Homo sapiens: one gene and its partner. The protein of the gene in region 1 interacts with the protein of each later gene in a pairwise test. Each region holds a gene or a part of one and is shown in the gene's direction. Other genes may lie near its edges.

Region 1 (15,609 bases):
ATGCCACCCCACCTGGCTAATTTTTGTATTTTTAGGAGAGATGGGGTCTCACCATGTTGGCTGGGTTGGTCTCACACTCCTGGCCTCAAGTGATCCACCTGCCTTGGCCTCCCAAGGGCTGGCGTGAGCCACCGTGCCCGGCTGAGAACTCACATTGGTTTGGGTGGTTGAGGATGGCATGTGTGGAGTGACATTTAAGCTGCAACCTGGAGAGCGATTTGAAGTTAGCCAGGTGAAGGGTGCGATGGACATTCCAGGGAGAGAGAGAAGCACACACAGAGGCCTTAAGATGACTAGGAGCTTGCCACATTTGAGAAATGGAAAGAAAGCTAGTACGGTTAGAGTAGAAATGGGAGGGAGAGAATGAAGGCAGATGAGGATGTAGACCCGTGAGACTAGGGAGGTAGCAGCGGGGATGGAGAAAGGTGACATAGTTGAGAAAATTTGGAGGTAGAAGTGACAGGGCTCTCTGCTCTATTCCTTCTCCATTCCCTTGAGAGGCCCCTAAAACATATTAGAAATTGATGGCATGTCTTCTATGTCTAACCCCTTCCTATTTTCCTCTTGTTTCACGATTTTCATGGCTACTTTTGCTTATTTGTGCTTCCAAATATATTTTATTATAATATTATCTATTTTTCTTCCATCATTCCCAAATACCAAGACTACGTTCACTGGAGTGATGTTAGATATATAAATTAAATTAGCTTAAGGAGAACTGCTGTTATTATAATGTTGAATCTTTTTTTTTTCTTACCCTGTTTTATGGTACTGAAATGTTCTTTTTTTTTTTTTTTTTTGAGACAGGCTGTCGCCCAGGCAGGAGTACAGTGGCGTGATCTTGGCTCACTGCAACCTCTGCTCCCACATTCAAGTCATTCTTGTGCGTCAGCCTCCTGAGTAGCTGGGATTGCAGGCGTGTGCCACCATGCTCAGCTAATTTTTGTATTTTTAGAAGAGATGGGGTTTTGCCATGTTGGTCAGGCTGATCTCGAACTCCTGACCTCAGGTGATCTGCCCACCTTGGCTCCCAAAATGCTGGGATTACAGGCATGAGCCACTGTGCCTGGCCTATGTTGAATCCTATGCCTTCCCTGTTGATCAAGTGTATTTTGCATATTTCAGGGTGTTTTATAGTGTTAAAATATTTCTCCATAAATTTATGCCTAGGTATTTTATTTTCTTCTCTGCTGTTTTGAATATTTCTCATTATGTTTTCTAAAGGAACTGGAATCATTCTCTTATCTGAGTGCATGTGGTGGATGTTAGAGTGGAAAATCCTAGGTTTGGGTTGTCGGAGTCCTGGGTTCAAGCCTGAGGTTTGCCAGTTACTGGCCAGCAGGTCCCTGGGCAAGTAATTTTGAGCCTTAGTTCCCTTCTCTGTAAGGTGGGAAGAATAAACCTCGAAGGCTTGTTGTAATTATTCAAATTATGTAAAGTGTTTTGCCCTCAGTATATATTAACTTCCTTCCTCTTGCCTCCTAAGTGGCCTGGGTCAGAAGTACAATTTCTTTTTTTTGAGACTGAGTTTCGCTATTGTTGCCCAGGCTGGAGTGCAGTGGTGCAGTCTCGGCTCACTGCAATCTCCACCTCCCAGGTTCAAGCGATTCTCCTGCCTCAGCCTCCCAAGTAGCTGGGATTATAGGCATGTGCCACTATGCTCAGCTAATTTTTTGTATTTAGTAGAGACGGCTTTTCAGCATGTTGGTCAGGCTGGTCTCAAACTCCTGACTTCAGGTGATCCACCGGCCTTGGCCTCCCAAAGTGCTGGGATTACAGGTGTGAGCCACCATGCCCAGCAGGAGTACAATTTCTCACCAGCCCCTTTATTCAAAACCAGGATGGTTTTCTTCTTCCCTGATCACTTCCTCTCAGAACCTGAAGCCCTGTAACATGTGACAACCTTTTTCCTTCCAGTCAAACCTCTCCAGGTAGGAGGCCCCTTGCTGGTACCCATTGGGTCTGTCTGTGCCCGGCTTAGGCAGCTATCTTGGGCAGCCTGCCCATTAGAGAGAATGGAAGGTTGTTCTCCTTGCCAGGACTCTTGAGGCCCAGCTCTGGAACCAGCCTGGGAATCTGTCTCAGGCAGGTCACTGACTGCTGGCATGTAGGGCTTGGTACAATCTTCCCAGTGTTTGAAGCTGAGGGCTGAATTGTAGGGGCTAAGGGCGAGGCTGGCACCCAGGCACAGTACCTTTGTGAGCTGCTCTGGCCCCTGGCCAGCCCAGATAGGGCTTCCTTTTCCACTGGAGCTTGGCAGGCAGGCTAGAATAGTGATCTCCCGCAGATGTCCCAGAGCCTGCTGGGCTGAGCGGGGTTCCTAGCCTGGTGGGAGGTGATACTGGCTACTGCATTGGTAGTTAACTACTTTTGTATAGCTCCAGCCCTAGGGGAGGGCTAGGCTACTCACCCAACAGGACTGGTTGCTATACCCAACTCTACAGGAAGCTCTCCTTCCAGGGCTATGAAAAATTTCGCTTTCCTTAAGCTCTGACATTGCCAGAGGTTTACCATAGCCAGCGCTGGTCTGTTTGGCAAAGTGGAGGTTCAGTCAGGTTGCCTGAGGGCAAGGGCAGACATTGGGTCCTGCTCTCATGACACTGTTCTAGTCTGAACATGGGTCTGAATCCTGGCTCTTCTGCTTGCTTGCTGTGTGGCCTTGGGCAAGTCCCTTCATTTCTCTGAATCTCACTTTTATTATCTGTAAAATGGGGATAAGGATGTTTAGCTCCCAGAGTGATAATGCAGTTGAGAAGAAATGCATTTTATTTATTTATTTATCTGGGACAAGGTCTCACTCTATCACCCAGGCTGGAGTGCAGTGGTGTGATCTCAGCCCACTGCAGCCTCAACCTCCTGGGCTCAGGTGATCCTTCTGCCTTAGTTCCCTGAGAAACTGGGACTACAGGCACAAACCACTGTGTCCGGCCAGAAATGCATTTAAAAAAGTCTGCAGTAAACCTGCCAGATAATGCTCAAGAGAGCTCATATGGTCATGCCAAGTACCTCTGTGTTCTGGTCCGCCCCTTCTCTGCCTCCCCACCTATCTGATGCCTGACCTATCCGTTTACTCACCCACTTATTCATGTATTCACTGTATATTGAGTGTGGCTACCCTACCTGGCATGTGGGTCTGCAGTGGTGAGGAAGGCAGCCGTGGTCCTTGCCACCCTGGGGCTTGCTCATATAGTGTGACAGACAGGAAATAATCAAGAAAACAAATACATAATAACCCCAAGATGATGATGAGTCATGAGTGCTTTGAAGGTAAAGGAAGAAGAGAGAAGGAGGCTGCTTTCATTTGAGGTTGGAGAGGTAGGCAGGGCCCAGACTTTCGGGGGTCTTCAGGGCTTCTCTCTTAGGCTTTATTCTAAGTGCAATAGGAAGCCTTTGAGGGGGTTTAAAAGCAGGAGAGGCCTTGTCCAGTTTTCATTTTAAAAAGACCACTCTGCCAGTATATGAAGAATGGATGGGGGCAAGTGTAGAAGATGGAAGACCAGTTAGGAGGCTATTGTGGCAGGCTGGGAGAGATGATCGGGGCTTAGACTGGGTTGGAGATACTGCAGACATAGAAAAATGGAAGGCGGCCGAACGCAGTGGCTGATGCCTGTAATCCCAGCACTTTGGGAGGCCAATGCGGGCAGATCACGAGGTCAGGAGTTTGAGACCAGCCTGGCCAACATGGTGAAACCCCATCTCTACTAAAAATACAAAAATTAGCCGGGCATGATGGTGGGCGTCTGTAATCCCAGCTACTCGGGAGGCTGAGGCAGGAGAATCGCTTGAACCTAGGAGGTGGAGGTTGCAGAGAGCCGAGATCGCACCACTGCACTCCAGCCTGGGCAACAAGAGCGAAACTCCATCTCAAAAAAAAGAAAAAAAAAATCCAAAACAAAAAAGCCCCCAAAAAACCAATAACAATGAAAAAGAAAAATGGAAGGCTTACATGTTTGTGAAGGTAGAATTAATGGGACTGGGTGAACAAGTAAGTGGCTGCAGGCATTGAGGGAGACGGGGTATCAAGAAGGGTGGTAGATATTCAGCTTGAGCAGTTGGGTGATGGTGGTGTTCTTTACTGAGACAGGGACAACCTGGGGGAAGAGGTTTTGGAGTGAAGATTCTGATTCTGGCCTGACAGTTGTCTTCTTGGGCCTCCTCATGGCTCACCTCCCCACTGTATGAAACCTGACCACTCCAGATCCCCTGTGACCCTCTGTTTTGCTTATTAACATATATGTATTATCTTTTACGTGGGCTGATGGCATGGCCTCCCTGGGTGTCTGGCTGACCCTTTTCTAAAACCTCACTGCAGGTTGTACAGAAAAGAGTTAACATAACAAGCCTGAGACCGCTCTTCTTAAAAAGGCTTGCTGGCAAGGCTGGGCCTTGGCTGGCTTCTGGGAACTTGGATTTTGTGGGTATTTGTACTACTCTAACTGATAAGAGTGGTTCACTGTGCCTAAACTGTTTGTGTAAACATTGTGGTTTAGGCTGAACATCTGCTTTCCTTCTGAGAGTCTGGAATCTTGGTACGTGCTAGGCAGAGGGTGCCTAAGTGACCAGCCCCCAGTAGAGAACTTTCACAGTGAGTGTCTAATGAGTTTCCCTGGTAGAAAACACTTCACACATGTCATAATTCCATGCTGGAAGAATTAAGTGCATCCTGTGACTCTACCGGGAGGACTCTTGAAAATCAGCACCTGATTTCCTCTGGACTTTTCCCTTTGATGATTTTTCTTTGTATCCTTTTGCTGTAATAAATCATAGCCATGGGTATGACTATACGCTGAGTCCTGCTAATGAATCACTGAACCTGGAAGTAAGTGGTCTTGAGGACTGCCTACACACTGGTGGATAACTTTTCCTAACCTCTAAAACTATCTACCACTGGATCTTCTCTTTTGGTGGAACTGGGCAGAGTGAGTCCCAGTGCTTCTTGGTTTTTGTGTGATCCTTGCTGCAGTGTAGGGGATCATGATGATGTGTGTGTGTGTGTGTCTATGTGTGTGTTTGAGATGGAGTCTCGCTCTGTCACCCAGGATGGAGTGCAGTGGTGTGATCTCGGCTCACTGCAACCTCTGCCTCCCAGGTTCAAGCAATTCTCCTGCCTCAGCCTCCCCAGTAGCTGGGATTACAGGCACCCATCACCACACCCGGCTTTTTTTTTTTTTTTTTGTATTTTTAGTAGAGACAGGGTTTCAACATGTTGGCCAGATTGGTTTTGAACTCCTGACCTCAAGTGTTTCACCCACCTTGGCCTCCCAAAGTGCTGGGATTACAGGCATGAGCCACTGAGCCAGGCCCATGATGTGGTTTAAAGGGCATGAGACCTTATATCAGAGCTGGGGATTTGTGACTCAGTTCTGCTACCATTGACCTCAGGCCAATCCCTCTCTCTAGTTGTCTGTCTCTCTATTTACAAGAGAAGGGGAGTAAGTTTGTTAGCTCAGAGGGCCCTTCTTGGGTTAAGAAGTGCTGAAATTTTACTTTTCCAACAACAACTGGCATCTTTCTCTCAGACATAGTGGCAGGTTGGAGCTGAGGCAGCAGGACAGACTGTGAGTGAGTATTTCCTGGGCTTCAGCTTCACTCCTTTTTTGGTGATAGCTTAGAGTCTTGGGATGGGTGCTGATAGAGGGTGGGGAACCGTCATCCCCATTCTGGCTACTGTTCCTATTTCTCTTCCTGATTCCTGGTAAGCTAATTGTGAGGTGATTAGGGAGCATGTCTTATGAGGAACTGACCTTACCTAGCATGGCAAAGCCAGGATCGTGAAAGACAGAGGATCCTGCCTGAAAGAATGGCATCCGCCAGGTTTTTGTAAGGTCTCTGGGGATAGGAAAAGGCCCAGCCAGATTTCAGGTCAGTATAAAGAGGTACAAAGGGCCAGGCATGGTAACTCATGCCTGTGACGTCAGCACTTTGGGAGGCTGAGGCGGGAGGATTGCTTGAGGCCAGAAGGTCAAAACAAGCCTAGTCAACATAGTGAGACCCTGTCTCTATAAAAAATAAAAATAATTAGCTGGGCCTGGTAGTGTGTGCCTATAGTTCAGCTACTCAGGAGGCTGAGGTTGGAGGATTGCTTGAGCCCAGGAGTTCAAGAGTTTGAGGCTGCAGTAAGCCACCATTGCGGCACTGCACCCCAGCCTGGGTGACAAAGCGAGACCCTGTCTCAAAAAAAAAAAAAAAAAAAAAAAGGTATAAAGGCTGTCTAGCTTAAGTAGGATAGCATAATCTGGCTTGGAGGTAGTGAGGCCCCATTAATTCCAGGTGTTAGAGCTGAGAGAAAGGGATCACGTGGCAGGGATTCATATAAGGCAGGGTGTCAGACTGGGTGGCATTGCTGGGCACTGGTCAAAAGCGAGGTGCTGTGACCCTCTGGGCCTCCAGGAAGCCTGGCCTGGAAAAGGGTAGAGGTAAGTGCTCCATGCCTGGTCTTGAGGACGAGGGCAGAGAGTAGCAGAGAGCTCCTGGCATTGGTCATCTCAAGGTCAAGCTCAGCAAAATGGTGAAATCTGGGACGTATGGCACTCCCAGTTTCTAGGGCACATGGCATAATTTTATGAGATGTTTATGTCACCGGGTTTTTCCACCAGGGAGATTTTTACTCCCAGCCTTCTCAGCTGTGAGATAGAAGGCTTTTGTTCCTTGTTAAATGGATTTCAGTGTTTGTCAAGCAGGTGGGGAGGTGCAGGGAGATGCATTTGGTGGTTACAGTGACCACATTTTCTGAGTCAAAAATCAGGACACATAGTTTTGATGTGATCTCACAGTAGCACAGGATATTTGAAATAGGGGCTGTTCAGGAAAATCTCAGGATACAGGGTTACTACGCCTGGGTTGTTTAGCTGCATGTATTCTCCTTGGATTCCAATACTTGCTTTTTCCATCATGGCAGACTTCCCAGAGCCAGCTGTATGCAATCATACTTACCTGTTCCTACTCAGAGGCACTGGGCCAGTCTTGCTTTGGTTTTCTGCGAAATCTTTAATTGCCTGTCACCTTTCTCTTTACTTAAGAAGCTTGAAATAAACACTAAGATGAATGAGTCATGGTGAATTGGTTTGGTTTGGATGTGGCCTTCTTTGGGTGTGCCTGCGCCTGGGGCCCTGGCCAGTTGCCTGCATGTTTTAAGGATAGTGTAGTAGAAAAAGTACTTTACCGCAAATCAAGAGGCTGAGTGTTGTCCTGCCTTGCTGCTGACTCACTCTGTAGTTCTGGGCAAGATTCTTCTCTGAGTTTATTTTCATAGGAAATGTGTTTGGCTGCACACAACAGAAAATTAATCATATAGGGGTTTGTTTTTCTCATATAACAAGAATTCCTGAGGCTGGGATGGTGGCTCCATGATGCTAACAAGGATGAAACTATTTCCCTCTTTCTCCTTTGCAATTCTTTTTTTTTTTTTACATTTACATTTTATTATTTATTTATTTTAAAAGACGATGGTTAGATGCCACAAAGTAGGTGGCAATGCTTGAACCATATGCATGTTGTCAGGCCCAAAGGCCTCTTCCATCCTTGTCGAGGGGAGTGCTAACCTTCTCTCCTTTCATACAACACCTCTTTGCAATTCTTGACCATTTCGTTATGCTGAGTTGCCTCCTCATTGAAAGAAGGCTACTCTGCCTCTCTGTGTAATGTCTATCTTTGGACTGGAAGAAGAAAGAAGTGAGGGAGCAGTTTGAAAGGGGTATTCCCTGTGTCAGGAATACAAAAGTTTCCCAGTTTATGTCCTAGTTTGTGGTCACCCCTTGTTGCAAGAGAGTATGGGGAAACAAATCATTTTAGCTGGACCTGTTGCCTCTCAGAATAAACTTGGTATCCAGTATCTATTGCTGCATAAGAAACCATCTCCAAACTTCATGACTTAAAGCAATATAGTTACTCTTTCTCACAGTTGTGTAGGTTGCCTGAGCTTGGCTGGGCAGTTCATATACCCACATGATGTAGCTGTGGTCATTCATTTAGCTGCATTCATCTGGGAGCTTAGCAGGGAGCTCAACTGGAGCCACAACGTCCAGGATGACCTCTCTTCTAGGTTCTGTCTCCATGGGGCATCTCATCATCCCATAGCGTAGTTCAAGCTGCTTTATAGCATGGCGGCTGGTTTCCAAGAGGAAGTATTCTGAGTGGACAAGCCCCAGTATGCTAGTGCTTATCAAGGCTCTGCTTACATTACATTTGCTAATGTCCCATTGGTCAAAGCAAGTCAGATGGTCAAACCCAGAGTAGGTATGGAAGGGGACTACAAAAGGGCCTGAATCCCAGGAGGTAAAGTTCACTGGAGGCCACCATTGTAAATGTCTGCCACAGGGAGAATTCAGGGAGAATGTTGGCCACAGTGGGTTAGACCTGAACAGTGTTTTTCAAACTGTGAGTCCTGAAAGCAATTTAGTAATTAGGAAAAATAAGAACTAGAATATAAAATATCAGGGTGGGCTGGGTGGGGGGGCTCACGCCTGTAATCCTGGCACTTTGGGAGGCTCAGGCGGGAGGATCACTTGAGCCAGGAGTTTGATATCAGCCTAGGGAACATAGTGAGACTCTGTCTCTACAAAATAAATAAATAAAATTACCCAGGCCTGGTGGCTTGTGCCTCTAGTCCCAGGTACTCAGGAGGCTGTGGTGGGAGGATCCCTTGAGCACAGGAGTTTCAGGCTGCAATGAGCTATGATTGTGCCACTGTACTTTAGCCTGGGTGATACAGTGAGACCCTGTCTCTACAAAATAAATAAATAAATAAGCCAGGCATGATGGCATGTGCCTGTAGTTCTAGCCACTCAGGAGGCTGAGGTGGGAGGATCCCTTGAATGCAGGAGTTTGAGGCTGCAGTGAGCTATGATTATGCCACTGCACTTTGGCCTGGGCAACACAGTGAGACCCTGTCTTAAAAAAAATCAGATGTATTGCAGATACATGATACACATAAATATTTACATTATATATGTATATAAATATATAACTATATATAAACATACACATGGGACACAATGAAAAATGTGTTTCATATTGTGAGCGTCTCTGGGCTCCAATGCTTTGATTATGTAGCAGAGTTTGGTGGTGAATGTCCCGCTGACCCCCTTCCGTGTGAGGAGCTGTGTGATGGGGATGCATCCTGTCCCCAGGGGCATAAATGCTGCAGCACCGGCTGTGGCCGCACCTGCCTCGGAGACATTGAGGGAGGTATGTTGGCTCTTTTGGGAAGAAATCCTTGAGTGTTTCCTGAGAAGAGTGCTTCTCTTTCCCTTCCTGGGAGGAGCTAGGATTCTCATCCTTCCTGTCCCTCTGGTCCCCCAACCCAAAGCAACCCATTCTTCTAGGGCCGAGGGGCCCTGTCGACATTAAAAGAACTGGGGGAAGGCACTGTGGGGCAGTAGGAACTACTTGGGCTGGAAGACAGACAGTGTGGCTTTTGGTCTTGATTCTGCTGAGGTTTTGCTTTGTGACCTTAGGTAAGCAAACCCGTCTTTTTGAGCCCAAATTTCTTTATCTGTAAAATGAAGGAGTTGCCCAAGATCCTGATTTTCAGATCTAATTTTTAACAAAAAGCTTCTCCCCTGCCCCAAATGAAATCTTAGTTGGAAACACACACACACATATATATATATATATATATATATATTTTTTTTTTTTTTCTTTTTTTTCTTTTTTTTTTTTTTTGAGACAGAGTCTTGGTCTGTACCCCAGGCTAGAGTGTAGTGGCGTGATCTTGGCTCACTGAAACCTCTGCCTCTGGGGTTTCTTCTGCCTCAGCCTCCTGAGTAGCTGGGATTACAGGCACACGCCACCATGCCCAGCTAATTTTTGTATTTTTAGTAGAGATGGGTTTTCATCATGTTGACCAGGCTGGTCTTGAACTCCTGACCTCGTGATCTGCCTGTCTCGGCCTCCCAAAGTGCTGGAATTACAGGCGTGAGCCACCACGCCCAGCTGGAAACACACACACACACACACACACACACACACACACACACACACAGAGATAAAAGCATTCCTGTTCCAATGCCTTTTTTTCTTCAACATTTTAAAAAAACAAATATTTTTGAGTGCCAGGCACTGTGGATCTCCATTAAAGAATCATTGACCCTTGTGCTATCTTAGTCCCTTTAGATTCCCAGGCAGTGCTCAAGGCTGAGGACAGACTCTTGTCCGTATGTAGCTTATAGCCCATCAGGCAAGATAGACATATTCCTTTTAAATAAGGGATTATGATAAAGTTTGATGAGAGGAAGCATACAGGGTGCTACAGGAGCACAAAGCAGGGACATCAAACCTTGTCTAGGGTGGCAGAGGAGGCCACCGTGAAGAAGTGACACTATGAATCCAGAGCATAGGGGGAGGGGGAGTGGTCTGGGAGGCTTGCCCCTGCCACACTTCACCCACCCCCACCCCAAACCTGCAGAGGTGTCAATCCCTGAGTTACCTCTTGGGAACTCCCTTTGGGGCACCATTTGAAAACTCTGGGCTCAGAGGTCTCTTGGGTTCCTAAAGATTCTGAGATCCTCCAGCGCCATGGTTTCCCAGCCAGTTTAGTTGGGTCTAGTGAGGGTCAGGGGTTGATTGACCTAGAGCCTCTGTGTGTAAGTTCACGATGGGAACATGGAGATGGCAGAGCTGATGCCCTGTCCCTTTTCCTGTGCCTGTTGTTCCCACAGGGCGGGGCGGTGATTGTCCAAAAGTTCTGGTGGGCCTGTGCATTGTTGGCTGTGTGATGGATGAGAATTGTCAAGCTGGAGAAAAATGTTGCAAGTCAGGCTGTGGCCGCTTCTGTGTCCCACCAGTCCTGCCCCCAAAACTGACCATGAACCCCAACTGGACTGTGAGGTCTGATTCCGAATTAGGTGAGTACAGTCCATTGTCATCAACAATAACAGACAACTGCTATGTGCAAAGCACTGGCTTAGGTGCTGGGAAGGGGACTTCAGAAGGTCAGGAAAAGTCTAGTTGGAGAGAAAGAACCTATGTCCCAGATGAAAACCCTCATACAAACAGTACAGGCTTACACCTGTTCTCAGGTGTGGCAAACCTGTGTCCCAGATGAGAACCCTCATATAAACAGTACAGGCTTACACCTGTTCCCAGGTGTGGCTCCCTGGGAAGGTCTCTGTGGGAGAGGTGGGATTTGATTGAGGTGCTTAAGGCTAGGCAGATGCGACAAAGGGAGGATAGCACAGGGACATGCCAGATAGGCAATCTGGTGATTGCTGGCAAAGGAACACAGGGTGGGAATGTGTGGGATATGTTTGGGAGGTGAGGAGTGGGGGCAGGGTGGGTAAAGGAACAGACGTATCTCCAGTTTTTTTTTTTTTTTTTTTGAGATGGAGTTTCACTCTTGTCACCCAGGCTGGAGTGCAATGGCACAATCTCGACTCACTGCAACCTCTGCCTCCTGGATTCAAGCAATTCTCCTGCCTCAGCCTCCCAAGGCTGGGATTTACAGGCGCCTGCCATCATACCTAGCTGATTTTTGTATTTTTAGTAGAGACAGTGTTTCACCATGTTGGCCAGGTCTGGTCTCGAGCTCCTGATCTCAGGTTATCCACCCACCTTGGCCTCCCAAAGTGCTGGGATTACAGGCATGAGCCACTGTGCCCGACCATAATTCCAGTTTTTTATAACAGGAGATACAAGGTTGACATCTGAATAATAAGAGCCTTCAGTGCCAGTTTGGATTGGATTGTCTGGGAAGCAAGGAGCTATTTAAGACTTTTGAGAGCAATATAGGCCAAGCTTTCCTAGGGTGGAGGGAAAACATTTCAGGTAGCTGAAGCCAGGAGGGCACAGCTGTGACTTGATGTTTCTTCTACTTGCAGAGATCCCGGTGCCCTAGCTGTGCTGATTTGTCTGGAGCTTCTTTGGTAATTCTGGAAGCTTTTCCTGGCAGTCAAGAGAGGGTGACATCCTGGGGCTTGTGACATTTCCAGGGGCACTCATGGCCCTCTCTGCTCTGCTTCTCCTCCTGCCGCTGACCAGAGCATGGGAAATAGCCCTGGATTGGGTAGTGGGTGTGTGGTGCTTCTCTTTCCCGATAAAGGCTGGTGCTGACCTCTTGTTTGTGCTATTTGAGGGCTCAGATGATATGGGAGAGCTAGAGGGTATGTGTGTGCCTGTGGGATTGTACGATTTACATATTTAGGACAGATGGGTAATCCATTCTTTGTGAGGACACTGAAAATGGGTTTTGGTTGGGTGTGGCTAGGGAAGAGATGGGTGGAAACTAAACTGAGAGTGACTTGCCATAGATGTCTTTCTCAAGCCCTGGTGGGGGTGGAGGTCAGTCTCTTTTAGACCTGCTGACCTTCTTTCTTTTATTGGAGAATGTGGGTTGAGGGTGGAAACTAAACTGAGAGTGACTTGCCATAGATGTCTTTCTCAAGCCCTGGTGGGGGTGGAGGTCAGTCTCTTTTAGACCTGCTGACCTTCTTTCTTTTATTGGAGAATGTGGGTTGAGGGTGGAACAAGGGTGAGTGGCTAGTTTTTTTTTTTTTTTGAGATGTAGTCTCACTCTGTTGCCCAGGCTGGAGTGCAGTGGCGCAATCTTGGCTCACTGCAACCTCTGCCTCTCAGGTTCAAGTGATTCTCCTGCCTCAGTCTCCCGAGTAGCTGGGACTACAGGCGCGCTACCATGCCTGACTAATTTTTGTATTTTTAGTAGAGACGGGGTTTCACCATGATGGCCAGGCTTATCTTGAACTCCTGACCTCAGGTGATCTGCCTGCCTTGGCCTCCCAAAGTGCTGGGATTACAGGCGTCAGCCACTGTGCCCAGCCGAGTGGCTAGTTTCTTATAGATGTTGGAATGTTCCCACCTTGGACCTCCTTCCTTGAGGGCCAGCCCTTGGCTCCAAGACAGGCAGTTTGTCCCCTCCAGGTAGCTTTATTTTAGGGAGGGGATATCCCTAGGTTCTTGGGACCAAGATAATTTTTTAAAGTTATGTTTTTTATTTATATGAAATGGATTATATTGTGTATCTTGGAGATCTTTCATGTCATCACGTATATTCTTTTAATAGAACTCTATGAAATGGGTAATTTATTTAACTAGTTATCTTTTTTTTTTTTTGAGACGAAATCTTGCTCTGTCGCCTAGGCTGGAGTGCAGTGGCACGATCTCCGCTCACTGCAACCTCCGCCTCCTGGGCTCAAGCAATTCTCTTACCTCAGCCTTCTGAGTAGCTGTGCCTTTGACTGTTTTAGTAGAAACCCTGTCTCTACTAAAAATACAAAAATTAGCCGGGTGTGGTGGTGTGATGATATAATGATTTTTAAAAAAACTATGTGCATGTATTCGAGTTTTTAAATAAACAACAAAATGATAAAACAGTGGAAGAGGGATCTGCCAAAATGTTCAGCAGCCCATCACACAGACACTGGCCCTTCCCAGTTCCCTGCAACATGATCCTGGAGTCATGGATGTTTCTGGGTTGGCCACTGCGAGGTTCATGCCAGCCACTCTTTTTCAGATCAGGCAACATTGACATGTCTACTGTACTGAAAAGAGATAAATGTTCTGAACCAGGTAGAAACCAGAATTTCACATGCCAGGATGAAAACAAGGGGGAGAAGGCACAGACACTCAGCAGTGGTCGGGTGCAGTGGCTCACGCCTGTAATCCCAACATTTTCGGAGGCCAAGGCAGGCAGATCACTTGAGGTCAGGAGTTCAAGACCAGCCTGACCAACATGGTGAAACCCCGTCTCTACTAAAAATACAAAAATTAGCCAGGCTTGGTGGTGCACGCCTGTAATCCCAGCTACTCAGGAGGCTGAGGCAGGAGAATTGCTTGAACCTGGGAGGTGGAAGTTCCAAGTGAGCCGAGATCCTGCCATTGCACTCCAGCCCGGGCGACAAGAGCGAAACTCCATCTCAAAAAAAAAAAAAAAAAAAAAAATCATCAGTATGGTAGAACTTTCAATGAAAAACAACAGTCTGGGAATCCTCTCATATTGCAGAATGATGTTCTGTCAGGGTGGAGAGTGGGACTGGAGAGACAGGTGTGAGCCCCAGGCACAGCTCAGGCTGAGCAATGGGAGAGCTGCTCCTTGCAGACCTTTCCTCCTCGTCTGGAGGCTCACCCTTTCCAGAGGGAGCTGCTGACCTGCTTACAGGTAGCAACGTCGAGAGAGATAGAGAGATAGATAGATGTATAGAGAGATAGAGATGGAGATGAGAGAGAGATAGAGATGAGAGAGAGTGCTGAAGGGTTAAATTTGAAAGCTGGCGGTTAAAGGCTGAGCTGGGGCCAAATTCCCACCCCCAGGTCTTTCTGGGCAGCTTTCTCTACTGTTGGACCCTGAACTAAAGAAGCCATTAGAACCTTTCCTTCCTCAGGGTTTAAGTCCATTTCAGCCTTGGTCCTGGGGTGGAAATGACCCAGGAGCAGGTCTCAGTGGACCGTGATCCTACTCTCTCACCTTGCACCCCGAAATTAGCCTCTGACCAGGTTGAAAAGCCACCCTTCTCCCCCGCCCTGCTCCTCAGCTTCCTCATCGTGGGCAGGAATGTCTGGGGCTCCAGTGTAGGCTGAGAAAGACTTGTTCTTTGACCAGAACCACGCAGCTCCTCCCTTCTCCACCCTGCTTCTTGACCATCTGGTTGTAGAAATCTCAGACTCCATATGTGCCCTTGGCCCCAGCAATACCATGGGCCCCTGCAGCCTCCACTGCTCCCGTGGGGGCATGATGTTATTGGTAAGGCGTGTAAGTGGGGTGAGGAAGGCAGGAGGCCCAGAGCGTATCCTGGCAGTGGGTTGCTCTTGAGTTGGGAGAGGTGTCTTTCCTTTCATATACAAGTTAAGCCTTCTCCTCAAGGGATTGTGTGGAGAAGCCCAGCTTCCCACAGATTCAGCAATATAAACAAAGAAGAGGCCATGTGACTGGAAAGAATTCTTTGCTGGGTGCTTCATGCTCTGCCCACCAGAGGGCAGCAGAGGTCTGTCATAGACCATTTCCAGGCAAGAGACTCAAAAGGGCAAAAGGGCATTCTAAAAGATAAAGTGAAAGCTTGCTATCAGCTGTCTAAGCTCCTGGATCCCGACTGAACTGCACTTAATAAATTAAGACCTAACATTATGCCCTCTGTTTTCATATGATGTGGCATGCTGCTTCATTTCTGGTAACATTGATATGGGGGACATTACCCACTATGTCGTATTAGTGTTTCTTGTACAAAGCCACAGGGTCAAATTCCCTGTGGAGCTCAAGATCAAGAAAAAGTTTCTCCCTCTGAGTTAGTGTGAGAATGGGCAGGGAAATAACTTACTGGGCATCGTCTGTCTTTCCAGACTCTGTGGTAGGGGCTTTCTAGAGCTGATGTTTCCATCTTCGCATTGGCTACCAGGGTGCCAAGAGCTCAGGTTTCGGAGTAAGGCCTGGGTCTGAATCTATAATCTTGTGCTGCTTATCAGCTTTGTGTGTATAATAACATTACCACACTGCCTACCTCATAGAATTGGTGTGAAGAGTCCATTATAAAGAAAGCACTGGCCAGGTGCAGTGGCTCACACCTGTAATCCCAGCACTTTGGGAGGCCGAGGTGGGTCGACCACCTGAGGCCAGGAGTTTGAGACCACCCTGGCCAACATGGTGAAACCTCGTCTCTACTAAAA
Region 2 (13,653 bases), on another chromosome or scaffold:
CCTCCTGGGTAGCTGGAGCTCCAGGCATGTGTGGCACCATGCCCAGCTAATTTTTTAATTTTTTTTTGTAGAGATGCATTTTTGCCATATTGTCCAGGCTGGTCTCCAACTCCTGGGCTTAAGCGATCCACCCACCTCGACCTCCCAAAATGTTGGAATTACAGGTGTGAGCCACTGCACCCAACCCACGCCCATTTTTAACAAATGAAGAAACTGAGGCTTGCAGAGGTTAGATCATTTGCCCAAAATCACATGCTGGATCCAGAACTAGAGCCCCCAGTCTTGTTATTCTCAACACTTTTTCCTCCACACTACAGGGACTTGATCTTAACACCACAGACATGGCAAGCTCAGAGCCAAAAATCAATATATGCCCTATTTACTTAATCCAGAGTTTCTCAACCTGGCACTAATAACATTTTGAGCTGGATTATTCTTTGTTTGGGGGTGGGAGGGCGCTGCCCCACGCATGGTAGGAAGTTGAGCAGCATCCCTGGCCTCTACCCATAGATGTCACTAGCACCCCCTCCCGCAGTTCTGACAACCAAAAATGTCTCCAGACTTTGCCAAATGTGGGGGTGGAGGGAACTGCCCCAATTGAGAACCACCAGTTTAGCCCTTCCTGGAAGACAGGCTCTGTGCTAACCACTTTTCCAGGATCACCTCATAAAACCCTCACCACATCAAGAGATGCTATGATGTCTATTTTTGCAACTAGGGAAAATGAGGGTAGGCAAACCCAGAGGCTCCAGGAAAGCAGCGATCTTGTCTGTAAGCTCACCACTGCATACCAGCACCTAGCACAATGCCTAGCACGAGGTAAATTGCTCAATAAATGGAGGTTGGTCGAATAAGATACAAGGAAGTCAAGCAATTGTCCTAGATAAGTAATTGTCCTTACATAGTACGTGGTCTGAGTCTAACACATATAGCTCAGAGTCCAGACTTAAATTTACTCCCTTTCCTCACAATTAGTGGTGGTCCCATGACCCAAGGTCCGGGTACCACTCAAACAGGAATCCTGATATCCACGTTTCCTCATTCTCCACAGTGCTGATTCCTAGGCAATTCCTCAGCTCCCAGTTCCCACGGGCAAGCTCCTGGAGTCCCCACTCCCGCCCCTAGACCCCAGTTGTCGGGAATCCAAGTTCCACACCCTCAGCGGGTGACCCGGACGGGCCCCTCATTCAGAACGGAAAGTGGACTTCGGTCCCGATCCCCCTTCACGGGCCCCGACTCCCGCTGCCAAGACAGGCCGTGGCGCCCGCCCCCACCCCCACGGCTCCTTACGAAGCTAAGTGTGGAGCCCGGACCGCCCTTCCTCTTCGGATCCCCGGGGCCAGCGGCGGCGGCCGACTGGTCGGGTCGCTGCGGACCCGGGGGCGGCTCCTCCTGCCGCTGCCGCTGCTCCTCCTCCATCTTCCGCTTGAACAGCTCCAGGAAGCTGCCGTCGTTGGCGAACAAGTTCACGCCGCCCGACACCGGGCTCGAACCCGCGCCCGACACCTCCTCGTCCCCGCTCTCGGGCGACGTCCCCGATCCCGACTCAGCCCAACGGCTCCCGCCACCGCCACCGCCCGCGGGGCCCGGAGCCTCCCGGCCCTGAGGCTCCGCCCGTCTCCCTCGGGCAGCCATTTTGTCGCCAGGTGCCGCGCAAAGGACTCCGGGAAGGCCGCTCCGGCCCCGCGCTTGGCGCCCGACTCGCCTCGTCCCGAACAATGCATGCCGGGAAGAGCGGTCAGGCCCTCCAGCGCCCGCAGCGGGGGCGGGGCGAATGAGGGAACCAACCCGAAGGGGCGGGGCTAGGGGGAGGAGCCCCCGTCTCGCGGGTTTTTTTGTTTCGTTTTTTTTTTTTCTTTTTTTTTCAGACGGAGTTTCCCTCTTGTTTCCCAGGCTGGAGTGCAGTGGCGCGATCTCGGCTCACCACAACCTCCACCTCCCAGGTTCAAGCGATTCTCCTGCCTCAGCCTCCCGAGTAGCTGGGATTACAGACATGCGCCACCACGCCCAGCTAATTTTGTATTTTTAGTAGAGACGGGATTTCTCCATGTTGGTCAGGCTGGTAATCTCCCGACCTCAGGTGATCCGCCCGCCTCGGCCTCCCAAACTGCTGGGATTACAGGCATGAGCCACCGCGCCTGGCCTTGTTTTTTAAAAATTAGAGACGGGCGCCTGGCTATATTGCCCAGGCTGGTCTCGAACTCCTGGCCTCAAGCGATCCTCCTGCCTTGGCCTCCCCTCCCAAAGTGTTGGGATTACAGGCGTGAGCCATCGGGCCCAGTCTTGCTGTTTTGGTTTTTGGTTTTTTGTCTTGTTTTGGAGACAGAGTCACACTCCGTCTCCGAGGCTGGAGTGCAAAGGCATGATCAGGGCTCACTTCAGCCTCGACCTCTCAGGGCTGAGGCGATCCTCCCACCACAGCCTCCCGAGTAGCTGGAAACACAGGCATGCGCCACTACGCCTGGCTAATTTTATTTATTCATTTATTTATTTATTTATATTTGTGGAGACGGGGTTTTGTCATGTTGCCCAGGCTGTTCTCAAACTCCTAGGCTCCAGCAGTCCTCTTACCTCAGCCTCCCAAAGTGCTGGGATTACAGGCGTGAGCCACCGAGCCCTGCCTCTCGGGTTTTCAAAATTCAGCAGTACTCAGGCTGGAGTTCCCCATACAGGGGCTCCCGGAGAATGAGACTGTCGTCTGAGACTGGGGCTGTAGCTTGCTCTCTGGAGTTGGTTTCACTTGGGGCTAGGAACAGATTCGCTTTCCAGGGCTAGAATCCCCGTCTGACGACACCAAGAATAATCTCTATGAGTGGAAGGACCTCATCTGGGGCTGTGTGCTCAGCTGACACCTGGGAACTTGAATCCCTAACTGGGGAATAGAGAGCATGTCTAGTCTGGGCCCCCCAAGTAGAAATAGGGGTATCTTTGGGTTGGGTAACCATCTCTGGGATAAAGCTCACATTTGTTGGGGACATAGCTGGCTCTGTGGAGCTGAAGTCCCCGTCTGAGAATCAGCTTACTTTTTTATTTTATTATTGTTATTATTACTTTATTTTATTTTGTTTTATTTTATTTTTTGAGACGGAGTCTCTCTCTGTCGCCCAGGCTGGAGTGCAGTGGCGTGATCTCGGCTCACTGCAACCTCCGCCTCCCGAGTTCAAGCGATTCTTCTGCCTCAACCTGGTCTCGATTCCTGACCTCGTGATCTGCCTGCCTCGGCCTCCCAAAGTGCTGGGATTACAGGCGTGAGCCAACGCGCCCAGCCTATTTTATTTATTTATTTAGAGACGGAGTTTCACTCTTTCACCCAGGCTGGAGTGGAGTGAAGTGGCGCAATCTCGGCTCGCTGCAACCTCTGCCCTCCGGGTTCAAGCGATTCTCCTGCTTCAGCCTCCTAAGTAGCTGGGATTACAGGCGCGTGCCACCACGCCCGGCTAATTTTTGTATTTTTAGTAGAGACAGGTTTTCACCATCTTGGCCAGGCTGGTCCCGAACTCTTGACCTCAGGTGATCCACCCGCCTCAACCTCCCAAAGTGGTAGGATTACAGGCGTGAGCCACCGCGCCCGGCCCGAGAATCAGCTTATTTTATGAGCTGTAGTATTCAGATGAAGTCGGGGTTATTTCTAGTCTGTAGTCTCCCTCTAAAGTTAAGAGTGTCATGGGCTGGGGTCTCCATCAAGGGCCTGGAACCCAGCTTCTGTTCCTGCTCTAAGACAGAGGTTCAAACATGAAATATGGTATACTGGAGTCTTCTCTTGAAATACAAGGAGACTTTTAGGAATTCCTTCTACGAAACGGAGCGCAATTGCAGGAATGGTGTCTGCTAGGCATGGGAGATCAGGGCGTACAGGACAAGACTCTGTGGACTCGCCCACTCTAAGCCACTATCAGCCCGGGGACCTATCGCCAACCGAGTCAATTCGTCTATGATTGGTTTGCGGCAAGAGCCAAGAGGCTCACAGCCTATTGAATAACAGAGGGGGCGGACCTGAGGTGAGGTTGGGACCTACCGTGAAGAATAGAGGGAAAATGATGGACATAAAGTTGAGCCTATGGAGTCAGGCCAAGGAGGACCGGGAATCTAACTTCACCGAAAGGGCATGGACTGGGTGTTTGGCTGGTTGCTAAGGTGAGGTTGGCGCTACCGGAACATAAGAGTGATTGGTGTAAGTAAGAAAAGACATAGCCAATGAAAGGAGAGCTGCAAGACCTAGGGCCCAATCAGTGAAAGGGAGTAGCCTAGACCGTACCGATGTGTTCATTAGGTAGGGGGAACCCTTGGAAAATTATAGACCAGAGGTTGACAAAGTGAACCCTGGAAGCAAAGAATAGTGAAAATATAATTTATATTTCTCCTAAAAGGCAAGTAATGAGGAAATTAACTCATGCTCCTAGCTTCGCTAGGAATGTGATAGAGAATTTCCCCTGTAGGTTCTTCGTATGGTGCGCTCCGCTGGATCACGTGAGCCAGTTCCAAAATGGCGGCAGGGGTGGCCGGGTGGGGGGTTGAGGCAGAGGAGTTCGAAGATGCTCCTGATGTGGAGCCGCTGGAGCCTACACTTAGCAACATCATCGAGCAGCGCAGCCTGAAGTGGATCTTCGTCGGGGGCAAGGGTGGTGTGGGCAAGACCACCTGCAGGTAAGGAGGCTGCGGCGGGGGCCAGGAGGCGTGTAGGATATACCACTGGGCGAAGGGGAGGCCAAGGACCGGCTTTTCCACCACGACCGGGGCATGGGGGCTGGCGGGGGTCTTTGGGTTTCACTCTCTGGAAGTTACCTGGAGCAAATGAGAAAGACCTCAATGCAGCCCTAGCACCCTCTGAGTTGGACCATCCGTGTTGGGGCTCAAGTGCCGAACCACAGTGAACTCAGCGCCCGGGGGACGGGGAAGCACTTAGATATCCCCATCAGCTGGACCGTACCTGAGTGAATCCAGAGTTGTGGGTGAGGGCGGCACCAGAACAAGCAATCCTAGTTTGGTGAACCTTGGTGTTTTATGCCCAAGGCGAGAGTGAGGGTGGAAAGCGAGGGAGAGAGCACGTGATGAGACTGTCCCAGGCAGCTACAGGCAGGAGGTGTCCGTTGGACAGATTATCCTGGACAAGCAGACTGAACCATCCTGTGCTTACTAGGGAATGCAGGAGACCCCTTAGCTTATTAAGGAAGGGGGCACGGAGTCAAGCTATGCTGGCTGGACCGCTGGGCCATGCCACTGTGCCCAGCAAAAAAGAAGCAGGCACTAGGCCAGACAGACTCAGTCAGCTGAACCTTACCTCTCTAGTCCACATAGAGGGGTCAGGAGATAAATCAGAGAGGGTTCCTTTGTAGGGACTGAGGCTCAATCCCACCATAACCCATACTCTCCTCTCAAGGCCCCTGCTGATTCGGGTCACCTGCTCCAGGGAACCTACCACTCCCCTTGCAGACCCAGGGAACAGAGCCCATCCCCTCATCCCCTATCTTTTGACTTTTCCATTACTCAGCTGCAGCCTGGCAGTCCAGCTCTCCAAGGGGCGTGAGAGTGTTCTGATCATCTCCACAGACCCAGCACACAACATCTCAGATGCTTTTGACCAGAAGTTCTCAAAGGTGCCTACCAAGGTCAAAGGCTATGACAACCTCTTTGCTATGGTGAGTGGAACAGGGCTTAGCCCCCACTTCTGGGAAAAGCCTCTTCCAGCCTTTCTTGTGCGCACACACCAGCAGCCACCGTGTCCTATCCACTCTATATCCTGTGTCTCTCGTGTTTCACTCCTTCCTCAACATACTCACAAGGGAACCAATGAGGAATTGCAGAGCAGGAAGCACACCAGAGTGCCTGAAGCTTAGTGAGCCAGGGTAGGGGAAGGAGAAGTTGGAGAGACCAATCAGAGCCACATGGTGTGGGACCTTATGGGCCACTAAGAAGTTTGGCATTGACTCCAGGTTATTAACGGGAAGCTGTTTGTTTTAAGCAGGGCAATGTCGTGGCCAAATTCATGTTTGAAAAGTACCCTTTGACGGCCAGGTGGAGATTTAATTGTCAGTCAGGGTAGAAGCAGGGAAACTAACAAGGAGATTGGGGGTGTAACCAGTTGAGAGATGACAACATCCTGGACTCTGGTGGAGGCAGAATGTTGGGGGAGAAGTAGTCAGACTTGAGGTTTTTTTTTTTTTTAGACACTCAAGACTCCTCTGTCTCCCAGGCTGGAGTGCAGTAACCCGATCTAGGCTGACTGCAACCTCCGCCTCCCAGGTTCAAGCAATGCTCCTGCCTCAGCCTCCCGAGTAGCTGGCACTACAGGCTTGCGCCACCACTGCCTGTTAATTTTGTTTTTTTTAGGAGACAGGTTTTCACCATATTGGCCAGGCTGGTCTCAAACTCCTGACCTCAAGTGATCTGACTGCCTCGGCCTCCCACAGTGCTGGGATTACAGGCATGAGCCACCACATCGCACCAGGGATGTATTTTGGAAGTAAACCAGTAAGATTACTTGGGTGAGAAAAAGAAATGAATTGATTACATGTCTTTCTTGTCTCTCTGAGCAGCTGGGATGGGGAAAACTAGGAAAGGAGTAGGTTTAGAATGAACAAATAAAGAATTTCATTTTGTCCACAGTGAATCTGAGTTGCCCACTGGAAATCCAAGTGTAAACATCATGACAGTAGCTTGTTTATGTGAGTCTGGAGCCCAGAGGAGGTTGGCATTGATTTGGAAGTCACTGTCTCAAGGGTGGCATTTAAAGCTGTGTGAGGGCTGGGCATGGTGGCTCATTCCTGTAATCCTAGCACTTTGAGAAGCCAAGGTGGGCGGATCACTTGAGGTCAAGAGTTTGAGACCAGCCTGGCCAACATGGTGAAACCCCATCACTACTAAAAATATAAACCAATTAGCTGGGCATGGTGGCAGGTGCCTGTAATACCAGCTACTCAGAAGGCTAAGGTAGGAGAATCGCTAGAACCCAGGAAGCAGAGATTCTCCTGCCTCAGCCTCCGGAGTTGCTGGGATTACAGGTGCCTACCACCATGCCCGGCTAATTTTTGTATTTTTAGTAGAGACGAGGTTTTCTCACGTCTCAAAAAAAAAAAAAATTGGCTGGGCGCAGTGGCTCACTCCTGTCATCCCAGCACTGTGGGAGACCGAGGCGGGTGGATCACAAGGTCAGGAGATCAAGACCCTCCTGGCTAACACGGTGAAAGCCCATCTCTACTAAAAATACAAAAAATAGCTGGGCATGGTGGCAGGCGCCTTTAGTCCCAGCTGCTCAGGAGGCTGAGGCAGGAGAGTGGCGTGAACCCCGGAGGCGGAGCTTGCAGTGAGCTGAGATCGCGCCACTGCACTCCAGCCTGGGCGACAGAGCAACACTCTGTCTCAAAAAAATAATAAAGGCCGGGCACGGTGGCTCACATCTGTAATCTCAGCACTTTGGGAGGCTGAGGCGGGCAGATCACAAGGTCAAGAGACTGAGACCATCTTGGCTAACACGGTGAAACCTCATCTCTACTAAAAATACAAAAAAATTAGCCAGGTATGGTGGCGGGCACCTGTAGTCCCAGCTACTCCGGAGGCTGAGGCAGGAGAATGGCGTGAACGCGGGAAGTGGACCTTGCAGTGAGCCGAGATCGCGCCACTGCTTTACAGCCTGAACAACGGAGCGAGACTCAACAAAAAATAATAAATAAAAATAAAATAAAATAAAGAGATGCTGCAGAGTGAGGATGCTGGCAGAGGACAGTCCTCAGGTGGGATGAGCTCCATCCAGCATACAGACCCAGAACTTGGGCGCTGCCAGGGTCAGGGACTGGGAGGGAAACAGGAGGAATTGGGGCACTTCCCGGGCAGAGATGAGGGTGTTGGCAGCCAATGGCTTCTCTTTCTCACCAAGGAACAGGCAAGGGTCTCAGCAGTGAATGGGATAGAAGTTTGAGGAGGGAGAAAATACCACATAAACACTTATTAAGGTAGCAGGGGGAACCAGAATTGTCTGGATCATCAAGTGCCCATTGGAGATTTGTGTTCAGAAGAGGGGAGCAAGGGCGGGCGTGGTGGCTCATGCCTGTAATCCCAGCACTTCGGGAGGCTGAGGCAGGTGGATCAGAAGGTCAGGAGTTAAAGACCAGCCTAGCCAAGATGGTGGAACTCCATCTCTACTAAAAATACAAAAATTAGCTGGGCATGGTGGCTCACGCCTGTAATCCCAGCACTCTGGGAGGCCGAGGTGGGCGGATCACAAAGTCAGGAGATTGAGACCAGCCTGGCTAACAGGGTGAAACCCCATCTCTACTAAAAATACAAAAAGTTAGCCGGGCGTGATGGCGGGTGCCTTTAATCCCAGTTATTCGGGAGGCTGAGGCAGGAGAATGGCGTGAACGCGGGAGGTGGAGCTTACAGTGAGCCTAGATCGCGCCACTGCACTCCAGCGTGGGTGACAGAGCAAGACTCCATCTCAAAAAAAAAAATACAAAAATAAGCCAGGCACGGTGGCTCACGCCTGTAATCCCAGCACTTTGGGAGGCTGAGGCGGGCAGATCACCTGAGGTCGGGAGTTCGAGACCAGCCTGACCAATATGGTGAAACCCCGTCTCTACTAAAAATACAAAAATTAGCCTTGCGTGGTGGCCGGCACCTGTAGTCCCAGTTACACGGGAGGCTGAGGCAGGAGAATTGCTTGAACCTGGGAGACGGAGGTTGCAGTGAGCCGAGATCATGCCACTGCACTCCAGCCTGGGATACAGAGCGACACTCCATCTCAAAAAAAAAAAATTAGTTGGGCCTGGTGGTGGGCGCCTGTAATCCCAGATACTCGGGAGGCTGAGGCAAAGAATTGCTTGAACCTGGGAGGCGGAGGTCACAGTGAGTCGAGATTGTGCCACTGTACTCCAACCTGGATGACAGAGCGAGACTCCGTCTCCAAAAGGGTGAGGAGCAAGATGGGAATACTCTTCAGGAGTGTTCGGCCCTCAAGTGCAGTGATACTAAAGAGCTAGAAAGCCATACCTATCATTTCAGTGCTTGCAGAGACTGAGACAAGAGGATCACGTGAGGTCAGGAGTTCAAGACCAGCCTGGGCAACAAAGGGAGACCCTTTCTCTACAAAAAACAAACAAAATTAGCTGGGCATGGTGGTGTGTGCCTATAGTCCCAGTAAGTTGGTAGGTTGAGGCAGGAGGATCATTTGAGCCTAAGAGTTTGAGGCTGCAATGAGCTATGTATGAGATGGTATCTTTTTTTTTTTTTTTTTTGAGACTGAGTTTCACTCTGTCACCCAGGCTGGAGTGCAGTGGTGTGATCTCAGCTCACTGCAACCTCTACCTCCTGAGTTTAAGCGATTCTCCTGCCTCAGCCTCCCAAGTAGCTGTGATTACAGGCGCCCGCCACCACATCCGGCTAATTTTTGTTTTGGGGGGGTTTTTTTTGTTTGTTTTGAGACGGAGTCTTATTCTGTCGCCCAGGATGGAGTGCAGTGGCGCAATCTCGGTTCACTGCAACCTCTTCCTCCCGATTTCAAGTGATTCTCCTGCCTCAGCCTCCCGAGTAGCTGGGACTCCAGGTGCATGCCACCATGCCCGGCTAATTTTTAGTATTTTTAGTAGAGACGGGGTTTCACCATGTTAACCAGGATGGTCTCGATCTCCTGACCTCGTGATCCACCCGCCTTGGCCTCCCAAAGTGCTGGGATTACAGGCGTGAGCCACCGCGCCTGGCCTGTATTTTTTTTTAGTAGAGACGGGGTTTCAACATGTTGGCCAGGCTGTTTTCAATCTCCTGACCTCAAATGATCTGCCTGGCTTGGCTTCCTAATACACTGGGATTACAAGTGTGAGCTACCGCGCCCGGCCAAGACGCTATCTCTAAAAGAAAGAAAAAAAAAGCTGGAAGTAACCAGAGTGGGGGATTTTGCCAACAGCAAGGGGAAAGGGAGTGTTTGCAGAGGGAACCTGTGGAGGCTGGGCTGGATAAGGGTGCCAGCCAAGAGGAACACTGACAGTTTACAGGGGCCAGGTGAGGGGATGAAGTAGTCCAAAGAAGCTTAAAATATATGAAGCATAAGAAGAGGGTGCAGTGATGAGTGGGCAAGCTCCCCAACAGGGAATGACCCCTAAGGCCAGCGAGTTGGGTACTTCCCCATGGGACCCATGAAGTTACCAAGAAGAGGTGACAGAGGAGGAAGATAAAGAGGGAGGCATTGGCCGGGCATGGTGGCTCATACCTGTAATCCCAGCATTTTGGGAGGCTGAGGTGGGTGGATCACCTGAGGTTGGGAGTTGAAAACCAGCCTGACCAACATAGAGAAGCCCCGTCTCTACTAAAAATACAAAATTAGCTGGGGTGGTGGCGCATGCCTGTAATCCCAGCTACTCAGGAAGCTGAGGCAGGAGAATCACTTGAACCCTGGAGGCGGAGGTTGCAGTGAGCCAAGATCACGCCATTGTCCAGCCTAGACAACAAGAGTGAAACTCCATCTCAGAAAAAAAAAAAATTACAAAAATTAGCCAGGCATGGCCAGGCGTGATGGCTCGTGCCTGTAATCCCAGCACTTTGGGAGGCCGAGGTGGGTGGATCACGAGGTCAGGAGATCGCCACCATCCTGGCTAACACAGTGAAACCCCGTCTCTACTAAAAATACAAAAAATTAGCCAGGTGTGGTGGCGGGCGCCTGTAGTCCCAGCTACTCACTGCACTCCAGCCTGGGTGACAGAGCGAGACTCCATCTCTTTTTTTTTTTTTTTTTTTTTTTTGAGATGGAGTCTCGCTCTGTCGCCCAGGCTGGAGTGCAGTGGCGTGATCTCAGCTCACTGCAGGCTCCGCCCCCTGGGGTTCATGCCATTCTCCTGCCTCAGCCTCCCAAGTAGCTGGGACTACAGGCACCCGCCACCTCGCCCGGCTAATTTTTTGTATTTTTAGTAGAGACGGGGTTTCACCGTGTTAGCCAGGATGGTCTCGATCTCCTAACCTCAGGTGATCTGCCTGCCTCGGCCTCCCAAAGTGCTGGGATTACAGGCGTGAGCCACCACGCCCGGCCAAGACTCCATCTCAAAAAAAAAAAAAAAAAAAAAAATTAGCCAGGCATGGTGGGGCATGCCTATAGTCTCAGCTACTCGGGAGGCTGAGGCAGGAGAATTGCTTGAACCCAGAAGGTGGAGGTTGTGATGAGCTGAGATCGCGCCACTGCACTCCAGCCTAGGCAACAAGATCAAAACTCCATCTCGGGAAAAAAAAAAAAAAAAGAGGGAGGCATTGAGTCTGAGACTGGCCAGGGACCCCAGCCATGGCCATCCCTTCATAGATTCTACATACATGTTTGTGTTTTGTTTTGTTGTTTGTTTTTTGAGACAGAGTCTCCCTCTGTCACCCAGGCTGGAGTGTAATGGCGTGATCTCGGCTCACTGTAACCTCTGCCTCCCGGGTTCAAGCGATTCCCCTGCCTCAACCTCCAGAGTAGCTGGGATTATAGGCACCCGCCACTATGCATGGCTAATTTTTGTATTTTTAGTAGAGACGGGGTTTCACCATGTTGGCCAGGCTGGCCTCAAGCTCCCGACCTCAGGTGATCTGCCCGCCTCCGCTTCCCAAAGGGCTGGAATTACAGGCATGAGGTACCGCGCCTGGCTGGATTCCCCATATGTGCTGACGACCTCTGTGCCAGGCACTGTTCATGCTAAGCGCTAAGGACACAGCAGTGAACTAGATGGTAAAACCCCTGCCCCTGAGGGGCAGACATTCCTGCTATGGAGACAGATGATAAACATGATAAGGGAATCATGAGGGATGTGAGGAAGGGCTAATTTTTTTTTCAGATAGGTCTTGCTATATTGCCCAGGCTGGTGTCCAACTCCTGGGCTCAAGCGATCCTCCCATCTCATTCTCCTGAGTACCTGGGACTACAGGCGTGAGCTATCCTGCCCAGCTCCTAAGGGCTAAACCTTAAGGAGAAAGGAAGGCAGGGCAGGGGTGTCGGTGGATCTGTGCTGTTACTTAGGGTGGTCAGGGAGTCTCTCAGTGGAGGGATGATGATCCGGAAGAGGTCATGGCCCAGTCATGGGAGTATCTGGGGTTGCAAGTGGCAGGTTGCAAGTGGGGAGTAGCAGTGTAAATGGCCCGCAGTGGGTTTCAGCTTCCCTTTGAGGGCCCTGGGCACAGCTTGCAATTTTCCCCTTGTTTTTGACCCTTTATGCAACCATACAAAACCCTAAGTACTACCTCAGGGTCCCCCCAGCCGTGACCTAATGAAATGCCTGTGGTCACAGCCCACCACAGGCTCCCTCTGGCCCTGTGCCCGGGTAGGAAGGCTCCCCCTGGCCCTGTGCCCAGGTGGGAAGGCTCCCCCAGCAGTAGCAGCAACCTCAGTCTCATCCCTTTGGCCCCCAGGAGATTGACCCCAGCCTGGGCGTGGCGGAGCTGCCTGACGAGTTCTTCGAGGAGGACAACATGCTGAGCATGGGCAAGAAGATGATGCAGGAGGCCATGAGCGCATTTCCCGGCATCGATGAGGCCATGAGCTATGCCGAGGTCATGAGGTCAGGCCCAGCCAGCAGGGGTGGGGGCTGCCTGGGGAAGGGGAAGAGCGGACACAGAGGGCCTGACCCCTGTCTCCCCTCAGGCTGGTGAAGGGCATGAACTTCTCGGTGGTGGTATTTGACACGGCACCCACGGGCCACACCCTGAGGCTGCTCAACTTCCCCACCATCGTGGAGCGGGGCCTGGGCCGGCTTATGCAGATCAAGAACCAGATCAGCCCTTTCATCTCACAGGCAGGCGGCGGGGGCCCCCACCTGCACCATCCAGGCAGCCGGGAGTGGGAGTAGGCCCGGGCCCCCAGACCCTCAAATGCGCACTAACAATTCCCTTTCCTTCCCACCCCTTCTCACTCTGGACTTCTCCCTGGAGGGGATGGGACGGAGCTGTCTTTCCTCCCCCACAGGCAGGACTCAGTGTCCCTGCCCCTGCCCGCTAAATACCCTAGACAGAGCCAGAAAGCACATTCCAGAACCAGGCAACCTGCCTTCAAACCCTCTACACTCACCATGTGACCCAACTGCTGTGTGACCTCAAGCAAATCACTTCACCTCTCTGGGCCTCACCTTCCTTGTCTTGCAAATGGAGATCATGAGAGTGCCCCATGGGTTATTATTATTATTATTCGAGACGGAGTCTCGCTCTGTCACCCAGGCTGGAGTGCAGTGGTGCGATCTTGGCTCATTGCAACCTCCACCTCGTGGGTTCAAGTGATTCTCGTGCCTCTACCTCCCAAGTAGCTGGGACTACAGACATGTACCACCATGCCCAGCTAATTTTTGTACTTTTTGTAGAGATAGGGTTTTGCCATGTTGCCCAGGCTGGTCTTGAACTCCTGGCCTCAAGCAGTACACCCACTTCGACCTCCCAGAGTGCTGGGATTACAGGCATGAGCCACTGTGCCCAGCCCCCATGGGTTATTATTACGATGACAACCCTAAAGCCCCCACAGTGCTGCACACCACCAGCACCACCCACCATGGTGTATGTGCACGTGTGGGTGTGTGCGTGTCCCCTGTGGGGACCTGTGCCTCAGGTGGTAACACTGAGCACTTACTGTGTGCCAGACACTATTCTCAGCACATTATATGCTTCAGCTCATCTGGTACAACAGATCTGGGAGGTAAAGTTTAGAGATGGGGAAACTGAGGC

What was found.
Region 2: the proteins of WFDC3 (region 1) and GET3 interact in binary tests that used the Homo sapiens proteins (3 or more experiments, as listed by UniProt).

What each region holds. Positions count from the first base shown.
Region 1 is NC_000020.11:45,770,652-45,786,260, reverse strand, and holds the end of WFDC3 (WAP four-disulfide core domain protein 3 precursor), read left to right. Parts: intron 1-9,051; coding exon 9,052-9,186; intron 9,187-10,658; coding exon 10,659-10,844; intron 10,845-11,816; coding exon 11,817-11,833; 3' UTR 11,834-12,048; downstream 12,049-15,609.
Region 2 is NC_000019.10:12,733,023-12,746,675, forward strand, and holds the start of GET3 (ATPase GET3), read left to right. Parts: upstream 1-4,474; 5' UTR 4,475-4,483; coding exon 4,484-4,644; intron 4,645-5,488; coding exon 5,489-5,636; intron 5,637-12,354; coding exon 12,355-12,503; intron 12,504-12,586; coding exon 12,587-12,737; intron 12,738-13,653. Other genes in the region: TRIR (telomerase RNA component interacting RNase), read right to left, coding at 1,291-1,635.